Linked DNA regions of Homo sapiens. The protein of the gene in region 1 interacts with the protein of each later gene in a pairwise test. Each region holds a gene or a part of one and is shown in the gene's direction. Other genes may lie near its edges.

Region 1 (5,401 bases):
GTCTTTTTTTCTAGTTTTGAGGGGTAACTAAGATGATGTTGGCACCGGAAGCCCAGGAAAAAGCCAGGCAAGGGTGGCTCCAAGGGGAGCAGGAGAGAATCCCAGCGCTCTTGCCATGCTGTTTATACCTGTTCCCTTTTTTAGGAAGATGAGACTAAGCCAGAAGATTGCATACCAGATGTACCAGGCAATGAACACGCCAGGGAATTTCTGGCTCATGCACCAACTAAAGGACTTTGGATGCCACTGGGGAAAGAAGTCAAAGTTATGCAGTGTGAGTGTGGGAGAGTTTCCCTAATCCATGCAACTTACATGCCTCAATTTACAAAGAGTGTTTACTTCTTTTATTTAACTTGTTCTCATCACAGCCCTCTTACAGCCAAGGCACGTTCTCCATCTTCTAGATAAGGAAGCATCCACCCCACCCCCCACCACCGTGCCATGTGAAGAAGAAAGAGGGCTGTCATCTTAAGCCAGGAAGAAAGCTCTCACCACAAACCCACCTTGCTGGGACCCTGATCTCAGATTTCCAACCTACAGAATGAATGAGAAAACCAGTTTCTGTTGTTTAGGCCACCCAGAATACGGCATTTTGTTATGTCAGCCCGAGCTGACTAAGACACCATCTTTCTGCAGGTCCCCTTAGCCTCTCTCCCGTGTTGGATCACCCATTTTCCTGTGTCTTGAGTCTTCTTTATTATCATATTCTCTCCTTATGGTGTAACAAATCCTATGGCTGTTACCTTCAAAATGGGTTTATAGAAGATAAAAATGTTAAGACCTTTACTTTTCTGGAATCGTCTTTAACAGATTTTTAACTACCAGGATATTGAATTCTAATTTAAAAATCAGTTTCCTTGAGAATTTTGATGGGAATGCTTCATTGCCTTGATTATTTGTTAAAAGCAAAGACAACGTGCCTCAGAGTTCAGTATCTATCGGTTTTTCTTCTTTGGGTGGGTTATATTTTCCCAGAGAAGGCTCCCACGTGGAGGGAAAGCCATACTATGAGTGTTCTGGGAGCCGAGTGGAGGGAGTCTGGAAATGTGTCCATCTGCTTTTCATTCATTCGTGTGACCCTTTGTGGCTATTGCAGCAGCTTCCTTCAGACCTACCTGATGTCTCCCTGGTCTCCCTGGCCAGAGACCCTCTGTTTTACCTTTTCCACACATTAAACAACCTTCTACCAGGGTCAGGAAAACAGGGTCTCACTCTGTCACCCGGGCTGGAGTGCAGTGGTGTGATCACAACTTACTGCAGCCTCAACCTCCCAGAATCAGGTGATCTCACATCAGCCTCTGAGATAGCTGGGACTACAGGCATGCGCCACCAGGCTTAGCTAATTTTTTTGTACTTTTGTAGAGATAGGGTTTCACCATGTTGCCTAAGCTAGTCTCGAACTCCTGGCCTCAAGCGATCTACCCGCCTCTGCCTCCCAAAGTGCTAGGATTACAGGTAGGAGCCACTGTGCCCAGCCACCATTAATATTCTAAGAGAACTTGTGATTTTATTTACTTAAAAGTGAGAGTTTTGAACAGACTCAACCTGAGAAAGAAGCTTTTATAGTGTCTAAAATAGTAAATGAGAAGCAGAGATACTTTATGAAAACATTTACTCTGAAAAATATACTGAAACACACTTTAAAAAAAATGTACCTTTTGGGCCGGGCGTGGTGGCTCACGCCTGTAATCCCAGCACTTTGGGAGGCTGAGGCGGGCGGATCACCTGAGGTCAGGAGTTGAAGACCAGCCTGGGCAACATGGCAAAACCCCATCTCTGCTAAAAATACAAAAATTAGCTGGGTGTGGTGGTACGCACCTGTAATCCCAGCTACCCAGGAGGCTGAAATAGAAGAATATCTTGAACCCAGGAGGCAGAGGTTGCAGTGAGCTGAGATCACGCCACTGCACTCCAGCCTGAGCGACAGAGCAGGACTCCATCTCAAAAAAAAAAATTCACCTTTTGAAGTAATTCTCCATTGGATTGCTTCATAAATACTTGGTGATAGAATATTATTCCTAAAGGTATAAGACTAAAGGATGCTTGGGGAAGCAATTAGTTTACCTCTGTTTCTGGGATCTTACATGGCTTGTCCATAATTATATTTTGTTTTAGAATTAGAGTTTAATGAAGAAAAACTTGAATATATTCTGCTGATTCTTTATCTTGAGTAGGTGAAACTGTTATCTTACAGAAATATTTCTCTTTTCGTTTTTAGGTTGGCGTTGCAAACGCTATGGTCACCGAACGGGTGACAAAGAATGCCCTTTCTTTATCAAAGGCAACCAAAAGTTAGAGCAGTTCAGAGTGGTAAGTAAAGTCCAAGAGTGTCAATTTACATTTATCAGAGATAGTGAAAATCAGTGAAGCAGAAAGTCACCAGTGAACTTGAATGGTCACATAAAATACATTCCCAGAAGCCCTTTGACCAAAGTGTGTGCTGTTAACTACATGCTTATTAAATTACATTTGTATGACAAATTAGCTCTTTTACAAAAAAAAGGAATTCTTATTAAAGTGATCTTTGTTTGTAACTTGGAACAGTGATTTTTTTTCTGAAACAGACATTGTTATCTATTCAACCGCACTTTTTAAAATTTACTGTGTAAAAAAGTCATGTTTCATGACTGAAATCAGGGATTTAATTTCCCGGTCTTTAAAGAGTACATGTCTTTAAACTGTAAGATTAAAGTGTCCGTATATTTTTTCTTTAGATGACAGTTATTCCCTGTATTTTTCTTTGTTTTTGAGGTGGCAGTGTTATAGCTCTGTGATTGCTCCTGCAGAGCAGGGCTACCCCAAAGACAGTGTGCTGAGAGTAGCCATTTCCTGTATTTTTCTAATTGGAAAATCCATTTTTTAGCCTTAATGAGTTTTCAGTGATGTGACCTAGAACATGTTGAACATGCAGCTACATCAAACAGTAAAAAAAAAAATAAACTGGTTTTCATAACATAGGCATTTCATTGTATTTAACTTGTGATCCATGAAGCCTAACCAAACCTTAACCTTCTCTGACCCTTAAGGCACATGAAGATCCCATGTATGACATCATACGAGACAATAAACGACATGAAAAGGACGTAAGGTGAGGTCGTCCTGATGATAACAATATCCCCTTAAAGTTTTAAAATTATATAAAGTTGGAGAAAACCACTCTAGTGTTAGAGGAATGGTGCAGTAAACATGGTACTTCAATTGTGAAAATATGTGGAGTGCAGGAGTCATGGCTGAAAAGGCCAGTGTTGGGGAATGAGCAGGCCAGCCTCCTCCTCCTTGGGTTAACTTAAAGCCATGGGCTTGGTCCAGCTCTCTGGCCACTGCAGTTGATGTTGGCAACCCATGTTGTGCTGTCTACTTGTACAGTATAATTGATATTTTCATGTGATTCAGTTTATCTTCTCCAGAGTCTTTAGGGATGTGAGCTTTTGTTAAAAATTATACTTAGGCCAGGCTCAGTGGCTCACACCTGTAATCCTAACACTTTGGGAGGCCGAGGCCAGCGGATCGCTGAAGTCCAGGCGTTTGAGACCAGCCTGGGCCATACAGCAAAACCCCATCTTTACAAAAAAATATAAAAAGTAGCCAAGTATGGCAGCACGCACCTGTAGTTCCAGCCACTCGGGAGGATGAGGTGGGAGGATCTACTTGACCCCAGTAGGTTGAGGCTGCAGTAAGCCATGATTGCACCACTGCACTCCAGCCTAGGTGACAGAGGAAGACCCTGTCTCTAAAAAAAAAAGAAAAAAATTAGACATGATTAGAGAGAGGTGGAAAAAATTGGAGGGTTTGTTTTTTCAAATTGGTGGCATTATAACTGTTAAAGATGTAGATTAAGAAATTGAGCAGTAGGGGAATGGTTTAGTAAAGTATGCGTCTGTTAGAAATTACAATTGTAAGGACTGTGGAAACATGCAGAAATGTCTAGGACAATAAAAAGAATACAAAGTGGCTTGTACACTGGTTTCAGTCACGTAAAGTAGGCATTCAGGTGGAGAAGAATGAGAAAACAGGTAAAAATAAAAATACTGTCTTTGTGACATGGTTATTCATCATCCTATACTGCTTTTGAATGACATATTTATCTAAGCAACTGTTGTAAGTTAAAGCTAAAACTCACTGTTCTTTGATCAATTTTGAATGTTTAGGATACAGCAGTTAAAACAGTTACTGGAGGATTCTACCTCAGATGAAGATAGGAGCAGCTCCAGTTCCTCTGAAGGTAAAGAGAAACACAAGAAAAAGAAGAAGAAAGAAAAGCATAAGAAAAGGAAGAAAGAAAAGAAAAAGAAGAAAAAACGGAAGCACAAATCTTCCAAGTCAAATGAGGGTTCTGACTCAGAGTGACAAGGATGTGACTTGTTCAACATTCTCTTCTCAAACACTGACCAAGGAACAGAGGAAGATGCAGTCAGAGAAAGCAGCAGGATAGAGACGCCGAGAGAGGAGTATATGTGGGTCACAGCAGTGAGCTCCCACCCGCCTTGCAGTGAAGATGTGACCCCAGGAGAGGGAGTGTCTCCTTCCAGGTGCTAGCTCTGGACAGCAGCTGATTTTAGGCAGGAAAGTTTCTTCATCGTTGTCCTCCCTGCTGGTCACATGAGTTTACGATTCCTTTGAAGTGTCTCCCACAGGGTGGCAGGACTGGGAGAATCTCTGAGGCGTGTCTTCCAGGCCCTCCCACAGCTTGTGCCCTCCACAGTGTGGACTCAGGTCCCATAGACATCAGGCTGGAGTCTTCTCTGTTGTTGAGAATAATAAAAGCTCATTATTTATTTTTTAAATGGAATGTATTTATTTATGAATAATACATAAGTACAAATAATACCTAATACAAATTTAAAAGGTACATAATATTTAATCATGAAAACTCTACTTTCTTCCTTTCCACTCCAGTTACCTTCCCCAATGTCTACCAGTGGTACTAGTTTCTTGTGAATATTTTATATATCACAAGTAAGTACAGGGCTTTTCTTAGCAAATGCTATCCACATTCACTCACACATAGTTACATTTTAAACTTAGAAGTATGAACCTTACAGTGGTCAGTATCTGAGGGGGTTGGATCCAGGACCAACTCCCTCAATCCCTCACAGATACCAAAATCCGTGGATGCCCAAGTCCCTTATATTAAATGGCGTGCTATTTGCCTGTTCCCTACACACATCTTCCCATATACTTTAATTCATCTGTAGATCACTTCTAACACCTAATACAATGTAAATAGTTGTTATAATGTATTGTTTAGGGAATAAGGGCAAGAAAGAGAGTCTGCACATGTTCCATAGAGACAGAACCATCCATTTATTTTTTTGAATATTTTCTATCTGTAGTTTGATGAATTCACGAATGTAGAACCTGCTGATAGGGTGGGCCCACTGTTTTTATATATCAAGTACAT
Region 2 (7,293 bases), on another chromosome or scaffold:
TTGAAGCCCTGCAAATACCCTGTTTCTCCTTGGACTTTTGCCTAATTTTGGTATTCATCAGTAGATCTTGCTTGCATCAATTATATATTTCTGTGATGTTCTAATGGTTATTTTCTATTTCTATCATTCCCTCTACATTTATTAATTTGAATTCCTCTGTAAGGAAGAATTTCCCTTATCTAGTTACTATTAATTTTCTATCAATATGGACTCATGGCTGTTTATTTAATTCTTTGGATTATAATATAATACTATTGTTACTTATTTTCTTGCTCCAGTTGTTTCAGTTTGGGCCATTGAGAGCTCTGTTAGATTGGCTCGTATATCCATTTAACATGCACCAACCCTGTTTTGTTTTGTTTTTTTAATGCTGCTTCTGGTCCCACAAGGTGGTCAGACTCGTCTTTTATTTTCCCTGCTGCAGCATTGGAATCAACCAGTTTTCTTAGGCACCCAGATTCCTTTCATTGGTGAATGATATTTAGAAACCACGATCTGAGCACTAAGTGTGTTCATTGCTACTAAGATATTATTACTTCTAGGTTTGGTCATTTGAATGCAAATTTATGAGTAATTGGTCATTTGCCAAGTGTTTATTTCTTCCTCATTCAAAAGTACTGTTTTTGATAGCCAATTTCATTCTTCAGTAATCTATTGTTTCTCTTTTGTTTTTACTGTCCTAGAGATTTCTTAATGTTTATTATATCAATCACCTTAGTCGCTTTATACTTTTTTCCTAAGATGAAAAAAAAAATTTTTTTTTTTTTTTTTTTTTTGAGAGGAAGGTCTCACTCTGTTGCCCAGGCTGGAGTGCAGTGGTATGATTATGTCTCACTGCAGCCTCAAACTTCTGGGTTCAAGCGATCCTCCTGCTTCGGTCTCCTGAATAGCTGGAACTACAGGCACACACCACCACACCCAGCTAATTTTTTCTTTTTTGTAGAGACAGGGTCTCTCACTCACTGTGTTGATCAGTCTGATCTTGAACTCCTGGACTCAAGCAATCCTCCCGCCTTGGCCTCCCAAAGTGCTGGGATTACAGGCATGAGCCGCCATGCCCAGCTGAAAATCACATTTATTATTCTGTCTAGATACATACAAAGATTTTATGGGATGTCAAAAAAATCTATGTAAATTTTCAGTTGAGGTTGAAACAAAAATACCAATATTATACCTTTACCTTTTATTTTATATATGTCTTGAATTTTGCATAAAGTGGAAAACAATCTTTTAGTTTGGGTTTTATTATTATTTTTTTTCAATATAAATGAATTGGGCTGGGCACAATGGCTTATGCCTGTAATCCCAACACTTTGTGGCAGGAGGATTGCTTGAGTCCAGGAGTTTGAGACCAGCATGGGCAACATAGTGAGACTTTGTCTCTAAAAAAAACCCCAAAAAACAAAGAGAAATAAATAAAAAATACACATATAAATGAAATGGTTTGTCTGTGGGTTTTTTTGTAAAATATATATTGCATAAAATTTACCATTTTAAGTGTGCAATTCAGTGTACCCTTAAATTCAGTGTGGTGAACCATCATCATTTCCAAAACTTTTTCGTTATCTCAAACAGAAACTTTGTAACCATTAAACCATTAAAGAATAATTCCCTATTCCCCTTGGCCCACAGCCCCTGGCAACCACCATTCTACTTTCTGTGTCTATGAATTTGCCTATTCTAAATGCCTCATATAAATTGAATCATATATTTGTTCCTTTGTGTCTGGCTTGTTTCACTTAGTATAATGTGTCCAAGGTTCATATATGTTGTAATATGTATCAGCACTGTATTCCTTTTTGTGGCTGAATAATTCTCTTTTGTATGTACATACCACATTTTGTTTATCCATCTGTTTGAGTATTGGGTTACTTCCACCTTTTGGCTATTGTGAATAATGCTGCTATAAACATTGGCATAGAAATACCTGGTCAAGTCCTTGTTTTTAGTTCCTTTGGGTATATACCTAGGAGTGGAATTGCTGGATCACATGGTAGGTTTATATTTAGCGTTTTGAGGAACCATGAAACTGGTTGTCACAGTGACTACACAATTTTACATTTCCTACTAGTAATGGACTTGGGTTTCAGTTTCTCCATATCCTCTCTAACATTTGTTATTTTCTTTTTTTTTTTTTTTTTTGGAAGATAGCTAGCCAGTAGGTGCAAGGTGATATCTCATTGTGATTTTGATTTGCATTTCCCTAATAACTAGTGATACCGAGCTTGGCTTTCAGTGTATTTGATTTTGATTTTTTTTTTTTTTTTTTTTTGAGACGGAGTCTCACTCTATCACCCAGCCTGGAGTGCAGTGGTGCGATCTCGGCTCACTCCAACCTCTGCCTGCGAGGTTCAAGCGATTTTTGTGCCTCAGCCTCCCAAATAGCTGGGACTACAGGTGCCTGCCACCACGCCCGGCTAATTTTTGTATTTTTAGTAGAGACGGAGTTTCACCATGTTGGCCAAGCTGGTCTCGAACTCCTGACCTGAGGTGATCCACCCGCCTCAGCCTCCCAAAGTGCTGGGATTACAGATGTGAGCCCCCGTGCCCAGCTGATTTTGATATTTTTAATGATGTGAATTTAAAATGTAACTTATACACCTGTTTAAAGTGTTTGTTGTTTTTAAGTATATTTAGACTTTTGGAGCCATCACTGTAATCTAATTTCAGAACATTTGCATTATCCAAAAAAGAAATCTTCTACCCATTAGCAGTCACTTCTCATTCCCCTGCCTTTTTCTCCTTCTACCTCTCAGCACTGAGCAGCCACTAATTTACTTGCTGTCTCTATAGATTTACCTATTCTGGACATGACCTATAAATTAGATCATATGTCATGTGGTCTTTTGTGACTGGCTTCTTTCACATAGCATAATGCTTTTGAAGTTGACCCACGGTATTGCATATACTAGTACTTCAGTCCCTTTTATTGCTGAATATCACTCTATTTATATCTACATATATTGGATGTAGATCCCTGTGGCCTTTTGCTTCTTTTTTACAGGTCTTTATAGAATCCAGTGGATATAAGGAGAGGAATTATACTCATGTCATATATCCTTTGTGATTGTCTTTTCCAAATATAAGGAGAAATTATATTCACTCTTTAGCCTCCTTCTTTATTATTTTTACTTGGATCTTATGAATTAAAACTTTGACTGAACCAGTCATTCCATTTGTTACAGAGCTTTTTTTTTCTAAAAAGCCTAGTGTATCTTTTTTTAAACAGAGCTCAAACAGGGAACTTTGAGTGTTAAAACAGAACTATAAAGAATGTGATTTTTGTCATGCACCAGACACTGAGTCCATCATACTACTTGGCATGTGTAGACTTTTTTGCTATTGTTGTTTTTGAGACAGAGCCTGGCTCTGTCGCCCAGGCTGGAGTCCAGTGGCACGATCTCGGCTCACTGCAACCTCCGCCTCCCACATTCAAGTGATTCTCCTGCCTCAGCCTCCCGAGTAGCTGGGATTACAGGCACGCAGCACTACGCCTGGCTAATTTTTGTATTTTTGGTAGAGACGGGGTTTCTGCATGTTGACCAGGCTGGTCTCAAACTCCTGACCTCAGGTGATCTACTTGCTTTGGCCTCCCAGCGTGCTGGGATTACAGGTGTGAGCCACTGTGCCCAGCTGCAGACTTTTATTCTTTTTTCACTGGCCTCACGAAAGAATTTTATTTTCTCATTTACTGTGACTCTTACAAGCCCTGATTGGATTTGACTTCCTAAAGAAATCCCTGAGAGACTTATTTTTTCCAAAACTGATTCCTTTGCCTTTTCTTTTTTTGGTGGGAAAAAACAAAACCGTTTGATCCCTTACAATCAAGAAAAAGTGTTGGCACTATTTAACTTAATTGTAAATTTGTGATGGCATATGGGATTTCAAAGTTGTCATAATTTCCACAGCATTTCAGGGTTTAAGAAAATCCTGTAAGAAAAATGACCATGTTATTTTTCCCCTTTTTTGTTAGGATGGGTAGGATCTCTCAGGTAGTAAGAAAGTCTCAGAGCTTATAACTAGTTACTAAAGAGACAGCACTGTTTAATTTCCATTCAGATGTAATCTAGTTAGTGGAGTAAAGTTTTAGAACTCTGTTTCTAACAAAAATATTTTATCTTAATTCCCTTAGGCTTTTTGGTGGGGAGTGGATTATTCTATAATTTTTTTTTTTGTCCTACATAAAATCGTTAACTTTGTCTTGTTTCACTTAGATTGCTTATGGGAGATGAACGTGTAAAGAATGGCCTTAATTTCATGTATGAAGCCCCACCAGGAGCTAAAAAAGGTACTTATCTTCTTCCGTTTCTTTTTTTCTTTCTTTTTTTTTTTTCTGAGGCACAGTCTTGCCCTGTCGTCCAGGCTGGAGTGCAGTGGTGCCATCTCAGCACACTACAACCTCCATCCACCTCCTGAGTTGGAGCAATTCTCCTGCCTCAGCCTCCCGAGTAGTTGGGATTACAGGAGCACGCCACCACGCCTGGCTAATTTTTGTATCTTTAATAGAGACAGAGTTTCACCATGTTGGCCAGGCTGGTCTTGAACTCCTGACCTCGTGATCCACCTACCTCGGCCTCCCAAAGTGCTGGGATTACAAGCGTGAGCCACCGCACCTGGCCTCCTTCCTTTTCTTTTAAGTCTTTGATGTGTTTGCAGCTAAACATGGAAAAGTACTATGACAGATATTTTTTTAAAGTTGCTCTCCATCTTTTAAAATTGCTGTTATCCTGTGAAGATAATAAAAACTATAATCATACAACAGAATAAATACTAAAAAATATCTTTCTAATCTGATAATATTTCATAATGTGCCCTTTGAGAAGGAAGAAACTTTCATGTCCAAAGTACACTTATTCTTTAATAATTTGCATATGTATCTTTAGTCCTTCTTACTAAATATTTAATGCATTTGTAAATAAAAAACATAATATTCACTGTCAATGAACAGTGAAAAGTTTAAAAACTGTGAATTAACATACTTATTAATTTTAATTTTGTATTTTGTCCTGCAATAGTCTGAATTTTTATCATGTGAAAGAAGAAAAAAAGTCAAACCAATGAATTCTTACAAGTGACAATTAAATAACATGATATCATAGTGTATACAGTAGATTTTTATATTGAAGTTTTTAACTTGTCATACCTTTTTTCTTCCATATTTTTGATATGCAATCAAGAAAACAAAGAGGTAAAGTACTATTTTCTATGTCTGAATTTACTTGCAGTTGATTGTATTATATGGAAAAATTAAAAGAATTTTCAATGAATGTTTTTAGAAAGAAGAAACAGAAGGAGAGACCGAATACAAATTTGAATGGCAGAAAGGAGCCCCACGAGAAAAGTAAGGACTGGTTTACTTTTAAGACAAGATATGTATCATTAAGTTTACATTTACTGATATCCCATCTTATGTTGCTTTTTCAATCATTAGAGGAGGCAACTGATGTGAAAAGTTATCTTTAATGATTTTAATTAGCTGTCTTATTCAACTAATCTGCTTGCTCATAGTCTTTTGTTTTATATACTTTTTCATTTTTTTAATATCACAAATTATCAGACTAGACACATAATAACTAAATGGTGTTTGGAAATACTAGATAGATTTTATAGTTCTGTATTCTTACTGAAGTAATATATTTCATAATGTTCTTAGAACTGTAAAACTATTTTTCTGATTAACTGCTGTTTAATTTTTTAAATTATTCTTAATATTGTGTTTGTACATTTCCTCTATTTAATAGATATGCCAAAGATGACATGAACATCAGAGATCAGCCCTTTGGTATTCAGGCAAGTGACACATATTTTACTCTGTAAGAATAATTTTTATTTAATAAATGTATCTTTATATTGTTGTCTAAAAGGTGTTTAAGCTGAAAAGGGGCACTATGGTTTTTATTTGTATCAGATAATATAAGGAATAGAGGAGAAAACATAAAATGTAGTAGGCTGATAAAAGACAGAAATCAGGCTGGGTGTGGTGGCTCATGCCTGTAATTTCAGCGCTTTGGGAGGCCGAGGCGGGCGGATCACAAGGTCAGGAGTTCGAGACCAGCCAGGCCGACATGGTGAAACCCTGTCTCTACTAAAAATGCAAAAAATTAGCTAGCCATGGTGGCAGGCGCCTGTAATCCCAGCTACTCAGGAGGCTGAGGCAGGAGAATCGCTGGAACCCAGGAGGTGGAGGTTGCAGTGAGCCGAGACTGCACCATTGCACTCCAGCCTGGGCAATAGAGCGAGACTCCATCTCAAAAAAAAAAAAAAAAAAAAAAAAAGACAGGAATCAAACTTTTATAGTGAGAGCTATAATGATATTGGTCTCTGCAGTTTTCAAAAAATTTGGAGAATCAGCTCAAGGTCAAGAAAAGATTTAAATCTATTATTGGTTTAGAATCGGGACAGACTATCATCAGAGGGCAAATCCTTGTAAAGAAAGTTTTATTGGAACACCGCTTTGCCTATTCATTTACTTATTGGCTGTGGCTGCTTTCCCACTGCAGCAGCAGAGTTGAGTCGTTAGAATAGACAACATCTGTCCCAAAAAGCCTAAAATATTGACTACATTTGGACCTTTACAGAAAATGTTTACCAGCTCCAGGTTTTGAAATTTGAAACTTTAAAGGTTTACTTATTAAAATGAGAGAATTTAAGCTTAAATTCTTCACATAACGCCCTAATTCTTTTTGGTATTTTACCATTTCTTTTTGGATGACATTATATTGCCACCAAGTGAGAGGCAAAAAGAAATGGGATTCAGCTTAGTTTCTAGGCAAAATTTATAGTGAAAGATTTTAGTCTTTGTATTAAATTACCAAACATAGTTTGGAGTCTTTTTCCCTGGAGATCTTTTAAAAATGTAATTTAGCTTAAATTCTATCAAGGAATAGGAATTTGAACATTGGTTAGATTCTTACTTTTTTAGTAACCAAAATCACATTCATTATTTCTCAGGTTCGAAATGTGAGGTGCATTAAATGTCACAAATGGGGTCATGTCAACACAGATCGAGAATGTCCTTTGTTTGGTCTTTCTGGAATCAATGCAAGTTCGGTTCCCACTGATGGCTCAGGTAGGCACTAGACATGATTTGTTTCGGGAGAGGACAAACAAGGAAAGATAAAACAACATTTTTCTTTACTCTTTCTGGGTATTGTTTTATTTGGGTTTGTGTGTGGGGCTTGTTTGTTTGTTTTTGACTAAGACCATTCCCAAAATATGATTAATGGGAAACTCTGATCATATATGTTGAATTAAAATGCTGTGTAATAGGATTAAGTTTAATTTTTCCAGCCA

What was found.
Region 2: the proteins of RP9 (region 1) and CIRSR interact in a two-hybrid assay, tested with the Homo sapiens proteins (one study listed by BioGRID).

Annotation. Positions count from the first base shown.
Region 1 is NC_000007.14:33,094,180-33,099,580, reverse strand, and holds the end of RP9 (retinitis pigmentosa 9 protein), read left to right. Parts: intron 1-144; coding exon 145-274; intron 275-2,218; coding exon 2,219-2,310; intron 2,311-3,026; coding exon 3,027-3,088; intron 3,089-4,148; coding exon 4,149-4,347; 3' UTR 4,348-4,784; downstream 4,785-5,401. UniProt on the Homo sapiens protein: Is thought to be a target protein for the PIM1 kinase. May play some roles in B-cell proliferation in association with PIM1.
Region 2 is NC_000002.12:174,378,699-174,385,991, reverse strand, and holds part of CIRSR (corepressor interacting with RBPJ 1), read left to right. Parts: intron 1-4,214; coding exon 4,215-4,288; intron 4,289-5,177; coding exon 5,178-5,188; intron 5,189-5,276; coding exon 5,277-5,341; intron 5,342-5,741; coding exon 5,742-5,790; intron 5,791-6,951; coding exon 6,952-7,069; intron 7,070-7,293. UniProt on the Homo sapiens protein: May modulate splice site selection during alternative splicing of pre-mRNAs. Regulates transcription and acts as corepressor for RBPJ. Recruits RBPJ to the Sin3-histone deacetylase complex (HDAC). Required for RBPJ-mediated repression of transcription.